Linked DNA regions of Homo sapiens: region 1 is linked to region 2. Evidence: fine-mapped expression QTL. A gene starts in region 2. The other region holds a variant in brackets. All regions are shown on one strand. Distances are from middle to middle.

Evidence for each region. PIP is the estimated chance that this variant, and not a neighbour inherited with it, causes the effect.
Region 1: its variant is the best candidate, but not a certain one, in a credible set for the expression of THRSP in kidney cortex (GTEx, PIP 0.54).

The regions. Positions count from the first base shown.
Region 1 is chr11:78,098,033-78,102,425 of GRCh38, reverse strand. ALG8 (ALG8 alpha-1,3-glucosyltransferase) reads left to right here. Exons shown (of 13, transcript NM_024079.5): 13 at 1,231-1,480. The coding sequence ends at 1,462. Among named protein-coding and RNA genes, the nearest start is that of NDUFC2-KCTD14, 20 kb to the right of the region's middle. The variant A/T (reference allele first, on the strand shown) is at 2,561.
Region 2 is chr11:78,061,159-78,065,551 of GRCh38, reverse strand. THRSP (thyroid hormone responsive) reads right to left here and starts at 1,691. Exons shown (of 2, transcript NM_003251.4): 1 at 1,211-1,691. The coding sequence starts at 1,670. The coding sequence ends at 1,230. All of the region lies in intron 1 of NDUFC2-KCTD14 (NDUFC2-KCTD14 readthrough), which reads left to right.

The sequences.
Region 1 (4,393 bases), 37 kb before region 2:
ACATATAGTGGATTATTCAGCCAAAGAAAAGAATGAAGTTCCAATACATGCTACATGAATGAATCTTGAAAACATGCTAAGTGAAAGAAACGAGAGAATAGAACAAATATCATATCGTTCCACTGATAGGAAATTCTAGAATAAACAAACATAGAGACAGAAAGTAGATTAGAGGTTGAGGGAACAGGGGGATGGGAAGTTATTGTTAATGGTTCCAGAGTTTCTGTTTGGGGTCACGAAAATATTTTGAAGGTGGATAGTGGCGATGGGCGCATATTATTGATCTACTTAATACCATCAAACTGTATACTTAAAAATGGTTAAACAAATAGCAAATTTCATGTTATATATATTTTACCAAAATAAAAAATATTTTAAAAATCTGGTGAAACCTTGTCTCTATAGAAAATACAAAAATTAGCTGGGCATGGTGGCAGGCGCCTGTAATCCCAGCTACTTGGGAGGCTGAGGCAAGAGAATCGCTTGAACCCAGGAGGTGGAGGTTGCAGTAAGCTGAGATTGCACCACTGCACTCCAGTCTGGGTGACAGAGCAACGCTCCATCTCAAAAAGAAAATTTTTTTTAAATCTTCAATTCTATATTGTTTCTCATGTTCTTATTCCAATGTCACAGCACCCAACCCCTTTACCTCTTTCAAATGCAGAACTAATTCTCTCTGAGCAGCTTGAGCTAAATAACAGCATAGGTCAATGGTGGAGTAAATTTAGATTGTTGAGATAATATAACGTATATAATTATCATTTTTTTCTAAATGTGAAACTTATTTTTTATTTTTATTTATTTTTTGAGACAGAGTCTCACTCTGTCGCCCAGGCTAGAGTGCAGTGGTGCCATATCGACTCACTGCAACCCAGTTAAAGCAGTTCTCCTGCCTCAGCCTCCCAAGTAGCTGGAATTACAGGCCTGTGCCACCCTGGTCGGCTAATTTTTGTATTTTTAGTAGAGATGGGGTTTCTCCATGTTGGCCAGGTTAGTCTAGAACTCCTGACCTCAGGTGATCCACCTGCCTTGGCCTCCCAAAGTGCTGGGATTACAGGCATGAGCCTCTGCACTTGGCCCTAAATGTGAAATTTAATATACTCTTGACTCTGGCCTTGGCTATAATAATTGACAGCAAGACAGTGCAGATGGGGAAGCTTTAGCTAGGAAATGTTTGCTAAACCAGGATGACTCATCTAAAATCAGACTTTTCTCTCTTTTTTCCTTCAGAAAAGAAAAACCTCTTTTTAATTGGATGGAAACTTTCTACCTGCTTGGCCTGGGGCCTCTGGAAGTCTGCTGTGAATTTGTATTCCCTTTCACCTCCTGGAAGGTGAAGTACCCCTTCATCCCTTTGTTACTAACCTCAGTGTATTGTGCAGTAGGCATCACATATGCTTGGTTCAAACTGTATGTTTCAGTATTGATTGACTCTGCTATTGGCAAGACAAAGAAACAATGAATAAAGGAACTGCTTAGATATGTGCCAAGCAATTATTTCATGGGAAATTAACCAGAACTTGAAGAAAGTTGCCAGTGGCATCAGCCATTTGTTTCAGTAGAACTGTTCAGAGCACCATTCTTCCACACTTGGTCTTGCCCAGCCTAGCAACCGGATTGTCACCATGGTGAGAAGCCACTGGCCCTCCATAAGCACTGAAACACATCTGAAAAAAACTCACCTTTCCCTATTAAAATTGTCTGAGATCGTTCAGACTGCTGTGCTTGCTCAAGCCAAACAGGGAATCTGATTAACCGCATAATTATTTGTAGCCTATGCTAACCATTGTGAGGATATAAAGCATAATTAGAATCCTGTGCTAAGGAAATATAAATGAAATGCTATTTTGTATGCACAAAAAAACTTCTGGATCGTTACCAGCTCCTACATTTTCCTCTTGGCGTGTACACAGGCAGATGGTGTACTGTCCCCATTCTGTACACCTTGTTCGAGATTTTTTTTGTTTGAAATTATACAGTGACAATACTCACAAAGCCAAGGGGAGTAGTTAAGGTACTGGTTTGGCCAGGCAGCAGAAACTACAAACCACAGCTACTTTACATTGATTTAAGGATATCTCGTGCAGCTCATTTATTCTAACAGCAAGCACTGCAGTTTTTATAAGGCAGCCACTTAAACCTTTCATCATGCGCAGGAACTGAAGTGATTTTTGCAGTCTGGTTCTTATCCTTTCCCTTCCTTAAGAGTACTTCATATACGCTTTTTATCCAGGACCCCAATTTGTGTAATATCTGCCACACATTCAGATTCAGCCAACGTTTATCTAGTCAACAGTAGGAACTTTCACACATTTTATTTTATTTCTATTTTTTTTCAGCCCTCAGGCAGAATTCATACATTTTATTTACCCATTATCCCCTAAGATCAGAGAGACTCCAAGGTCAATGGCATTCTGAGATGGAATCCAGTTATTCCATCTCTTCCGTCTACTCCATTTTCTAAGACTTCTTTTTGGTCTGTTATTGCAGAGACAAAGATGGGGATCTTGCCAAAGGGGGAGGGAAGCGTAGCGCCTCTAACCTGTTTTCCTGCCCACAG[A/T]CTCTCCTCCACCCTGTGTTCCAGCTGGCCTAACAACTTCAAACTCCCCGTGTGCCATGCTGTCTTGTACCTCTGTTCCCTTTCATTCATGCTGCTTCCTCTCCTCTCTGCTGACTTCTACCCTGTCATCTGATTATATGAACCTCTTCAAGATTCAGCTTAACTGCTACCATGTCTGTCAATATAAAGGCAGAATGGTGTAGTGATTAAGAGTAGGGCCTTAAAGTCGTATGTCCTGGTTGTAAATCTTGCCTCCATCATTTTTTTTAAAATCTGTAGGCAGGTTATTTAACCATCTTTTATCTGAATGTTCTCATCTCTAAAATGATTACATAAAAGATTAAGAACACTGCCTGATGCATTTTAAGTGCTCGGTCAATAGCATTGCTATTTATGTGAATCTTTTCCTATCCCTCTACCTTCCCTCCTCCTGCAGAATTGAGTTGCTCCCACTGTGCCAGGAGTCTGCTGATACCATTAACTGCTGTAATACTGTGTTATGCTTGTTTACCTCTTTTCCCCAGGAGACTAGCAGTTTGAGACCACACTTGTCTTCATAGCCCCAGTTTTTAGCACAGTTGAATGAATGAATGAAGCACACCAAACCAGCCATGATTAAAACCTAAATATTTTACTAGTACAAGCATTAACACAAAGGACCAGTATAGTTCCTCACGTCTTTGCTGTTGTCCAAGCCAAAAAAAAAAAAAAGTAGAAGATGAATTTGGATGGATTTCAACCTGACCAAATTTACTTTTTTGGTTGTTATTATGAAAGTGATGTGATGTCAGAACGGGAAGAGCTCATCTAGTGTAGGGATTTCCAGAATGTTCTGTAGAGCACTGGAGGTTCTTCAGTGTTGCCTCAGAGGCCCTGGGCTCTGTCCATAGTAAATAGCTTTGATCTGTTTCATATATTCACATGGCTTCATATACATTTTCATTTGACTTCAAAGTCCAAATATAGCCTTAAAGCAGTTCAGCTGAGCACAGTGACCCACACTTGTAATCCCAGCACTTTGGGAGCCTGAGGCAGACAGATCACTTGAGCCCAGGAGTTCAAGACCAGCCTGGGCAACATAGTGAGACCCTTTGTCTACAAAAAATCAAAAAATTAGCCAAGCCTGGTGACATGCGCTGTAGTCCCAGCTACTCAAGAGACTGAGGTGGGAGGATCACTTGAATCCTGGAAGTCGAGGCTAAGTGAGCTGTGTTCACACCACTGTATTCCAGACTGGGGAAGTAAGCAAGACCCTGTCTCAAAAAAAAAAAAAAAAAAAAAAAAAAGTCAATGTCTTATATTACCGGGAGGGAAATGGCTCCAGACTCTGAAGAATACCTTGTTGGTGCCAACACAGACTAGAATCTAGACTTTTTGTCTAGAGCCCAAGATTCTTTTATTCTTTTCCAAACACTATACTTTGTAATCATGTTTTAAAACTTTACAGAGATATGGGTGGTTTTCAACAACAAATTCCTAAATTTCAGTCAATAAATGAAGTGCTGGTGGCGTGTGGTGGCTCATAGCGCTTTGGGACACCGAGGCAGGAGGATCACTGGAGTCCAGGAGTTCAAGACCAGCCTGGGCAACATAGTGAGACCTGTCTCTACAAAAATAAAAATTAGCCAGGCGTGATGGCCCGTGCCTGTAATCTCAGCTACTCAGGAAGCTGAAGTGGGAGAATCACTTGAGCCCAGGCATTTGAGGCTGCAGTGAGCCATGATCCTGCCAATGCACTCCAGCCTGGGTGACACAGCAAGACCCCATCTTAAAAAAAAAAGAAATGCTGTTTCAAAATATTTTGAAATTGGGAATTAAGCAAAGTTTAAGAAC
Region 2 (4,393 bases):
TTTACAACTAATGAGACCAGTTTGTGGGAGCAGGGCTGGCAGGTGGCACAGAATCAAAACTGGCAGGTGCTGTGGTCCAATTTCTATTAATACTAGTCTTTATCCATGAGTGAACTAGTGGTGACCATGCTAGGGCCCCTTCCCACCTCCTACCCTCTGCCACCACCTGCTTGTCTAGCTTGCTGCTCATCCACACTCACCACCCCAGCCCCTCTGTGCATAGACATGTAGGCTTAGACTGGAACACATATTCATATGTACATACAACAGGGCTTCCCAACAGGCATGTCTGCATACTCCAGTTTGCCTGGAATGGATTAGAGTGCCATGACTGGTCCCTCGGCTTCCCGTTTGGTGGGTTCCAACCTGGGATGGTCAGAGTACCCCCAGCCTGTTGTAGCAGTACTGCAAGCAGCCTCACCTATGTATCCCCATGTGCCATATAATAATTTTCCATGTTCTGTGACTTGAAAAAATGTTGGGAAACACTGTCACACAAATGGAATTCACAATGTTCACTTAAATCAATGTGCATGCCTTAGGTAAGTTTTTTTTTTTTTTTTGAGATGGAGTCTCCCTCTGTCACCTAGGCTGGAGTGCAGTGGCACAATCTCAGCTCACTGCAACCTCTGCCTCCCAGGTTCATGCCATTCTCCTGCCTCAGCCTCCCGAGTAGCTGGGACTACAGGCACCCACCACCACGCCCAGCTAATTTTTTGTATTTTTAGTAGAGATTGGGTTTCACCATGTTAGCCAGGATGGTCTCAATCTCCTGGCCTCATGATCCGCCCGCCTCGGCCTCCCAAAGTGCTTTGGTGTGAGCCACCGCGCCTGGCCCCTCTTCAATTAAATTCTTAACAAAGTCACTGATGAGAACACACTCATTCAATTCACACATTTACAAGCATTCACATACTAATAAATGCACACATGCACAAACACATATATGTGCATATGAGATATGCCCTCACAGGCCACTTTTCCCTCTGTTTCCATATCACTTCATTGCAATTGCCAATTTGAGGTCAGAAGGATAGTAACACAGGCCTAGTCTTAGGCCCTCCTAGGTTGTGGTCCCAATACCCTGACCCAAGAGTGGCTCTGTCTGAAAGTCAGGCTGTTCCTCTCCCAGTGGGTTGCACCACTGCCCCCTCTCCTCTCCTGGAATGTCCCTTTGTAGACTCACACCCACCAGCATGGCCACCATTACCTTCCCTAGTGTCCAAGGTCTACCAAACTTGTCCCGTCATTTCCTGGTATTTCCTTGTCACCTCCTGGGCTTTCTCGGTGAGGTGCATGAGGATGTGATGGAGGCTGGAGAAGTGCAGGTGGAACTGGGCTTCCAGGTCCAGCTCTCCTGAGGCACTCTCGTCCTCGACTTCCTCTGTCTCTGCGGTTCCATTCTCTTCGCTGCCTGCCACCTTGGCCTGCCACTCCTCCCGCGGCAGCAGCCCATGGTCCACATCCACACAGATGGCCTTGAGCATGGTGAAGTAGGTGTAGAGATCAGGGGCCTCAGCCTGGGCCTGGCCCCCAGGCCCACTCAGCTGCACGTCCCGCAGAAGGCTGGGGATCATCACCACCTGCTCCATGTTGTGCACCTCGGCTGCATACCGGTCCATGACGGTCAGCAGGCAGTTCTTGGGGTAACGCTTGGTTAGCACCTGCATGGTTGCTTCCTCTGACACAATGAGACCAGCAGACTGCCCCCGCACTATTTCTAGGCTCTCGGCAGATTGACAGGATGCCAATGCCCAGCTGTTGGGTCAACACAGCCCTGTTTTGGGCCAATCCCAGGGCTCAGGCCCCAGCATCTGTATCAGGTGATCCATCTGCCCAGAGACAGATCTGCCAGCCTTCTACTTGTCATCCCAGCTCTGCATGACTGCCCCAGCAAGAACCCGACTCTTCCTCTGTCAGCTTGCTGAGCCAGTTGGAAGGAAGCTTTTCCCTTTGGCAACTGGTATACTGGACTTCAGGGCAATAAATAATTCTTTCAGGTCACTGGAGACCAAGCTGTCTCTTTGCTGCCTGCTTAGGGCAGCCCTCCAAAGCACAGTTCACTCCTTCAACCTGGGGTGACTCCATTGTGAAATGGAGAGGATTTGAAGTGAAACAGCTTGATGTGGGGCAAGGAACACTGAGGTTGGAGTCAGAAGCCCAGTACTGCAATTTCCTAGCTGAGTTTTTTTTTGTTTGTTTTTTGCTGGCTAACATTTATTGAGCACCTACTGCACATCAGGGTCTGCTGAGCTTTTTCGTGAGTGATCTCATTTAATCTTCACCACAACCCTTGTAAATGTTTTATTTATTTAATTTTTGTAGAGATGGTCTTGCTATGTTGCCCAGTCTGGTTTTGAACTTCTGGACTCAAGCAATCCTCCCACCTCAGCCTCCCAAAGTGCTGGAATTGCAGGTGTGAACCACCAGTATTCCTGTTTTGCCAGTGAGGAAATTTAGGTGCAGACAGCTAAAGTAACTTGCTCAAGGTCCCACTGGGGCTGGGATTCCAGCCCAGGACCACCTCTACCCACCTCCAGGCAGTGCTGTGGACTGACATGAGGTTACATAGTCATACAAGTTAACCAGATCCATATCCTCTGTAAATTTGAGGTGGTGTGAGGATTGAATAAGACAAACTAATAAAAATGCTTTGTATCAGTCCAGACAAGCGGCTGGGATCAAAAGAGGAAAAAAAATGCTTTGTAAACCACAAAGCCCAATCCTCAGATGTATTATCTATGCAGATTCTAGATTATTGCTAAGGCTTCTCCCAAATCTAACCAGTCATTCCATAAGCTACAATGCTTCCACTTTATTACTGACCTTTCCTTGGACCAGCAGTCTTGGAAGATAATAATCTTTTGCGTGGTCATATTGTCATAGTTTACAAACTGCATTTGCTATATATTTTTTATTAGATATTTAAGAAAATGGCCGGGCGCAGTGGCTCACGCCTGTAATCCCAGCACTTTGGGAAGCCCAGGCGGGTGGATCACGAGGTCAGGAGATCGAGACCATCTTGGCTAACGTGGTGAAACCCTGTCTCTACTAAAAATACAAAAAATAAGCCGGGCGTGGTGGTGGGCGCCTGCAGTCCCGGCTACTCGGGAGGCTGAGGCAGTAGAATGGCGTGAACTCAGAAGGTGGAGCTTGCAGTGAGCCGAGATGATGCTGCACCACTGCACTCCAGCCTGGGCAACATAGCGAGACTCCGCCTCAAAAAAAAAAAAAGAAAAAGAAAAGAAAAGAAAATGAAGGCCTGGGGAAAGGCCCAAAGTTGCACAACAAGTTAGTGGCAGAGTCAAGTGGAGAATAAGACATTCTGAATTCTGGCTCAGGTACCTGCCTCCTCCACTGCCTCTGGTGAAATCTGCTGAATGATGATACCTCCCACGCCTGCAGGAGAGGAGAGAGGAGGAGGGAGCACAGGGAGGGGACGTGGGGCTGAACAGGGCCTCTGTGTTGTCTCACCTAAGCCACCCTCACCTCCACCCTAGGGCAGGAGCCCACTCTGCACCCTCCCAACTGACAATCATTCACTCCTCTGCTCCCTCCCACTACAGCCAGAGCTATGAAAAAGCTTATCTTTAGACTGAACAAAATTCCGCCTCCCAGCCCGGCATGGTGGCTCATGCCTGTAATCCCAGTACTTTGGAAGGCTGAGGCAGGAGGATCATTTGAACCCAGTAGTTTGAGACCAGCATGGGCAACATATGAGACCCTATCTCTACAAAAAATTAATTTTAAAAAATCAGCTGGGTGTGATGGCACATATCTGAGGTCTCAGCTACTCAAGTGGCTGAGGTGGGAGGATTGCTTGAGCCCGGGAGGTCAAGGCTGCAGTGAACTGTGATGGCACCACTGCACTCTGGCCTGGGTGACACAGCAAGACCCTGTCTCGAAAAAAAAAGAAAAAGAAAAAAATATTCTACTTCCCTATAACCCCTCCCCTTTAAATTGTAATATTTACCCCACCCAGAGTTACTGGCCTTAACTATGCTTATGTTGGCACAGCAGAGTGGTGTGCCAACTCAGTTTCCACAGGGGCCCTGAGACAGAAAAACATAAGTATCCCAAGATAAAACTGAGACAAAACTGAGACTCAGAAAGGGAGAGGTACTTGCCCAAGGTCTCATAGCTCGGACATGACAGGAGTAGGCCTGCCCTAGTTCCATCAGACCTGAGAGGAAAGCAGTGATCTTCCCTCTTGTCAAGTCCCCTTGGCAGGCTGGCCATGCATAGCCACAGATGACCTGAAGTCACCCTGTGTTGACAGTTGGCCTTGCTTCTCCAGGGCAGAACAGGCAGCCAAATCCAGGTCTGGGCCAGCTGCAGAGGGCAAAGCTTCCACCTTAACCCTCTGTGTACTGCAAGTGGTGGAGGGAAACAG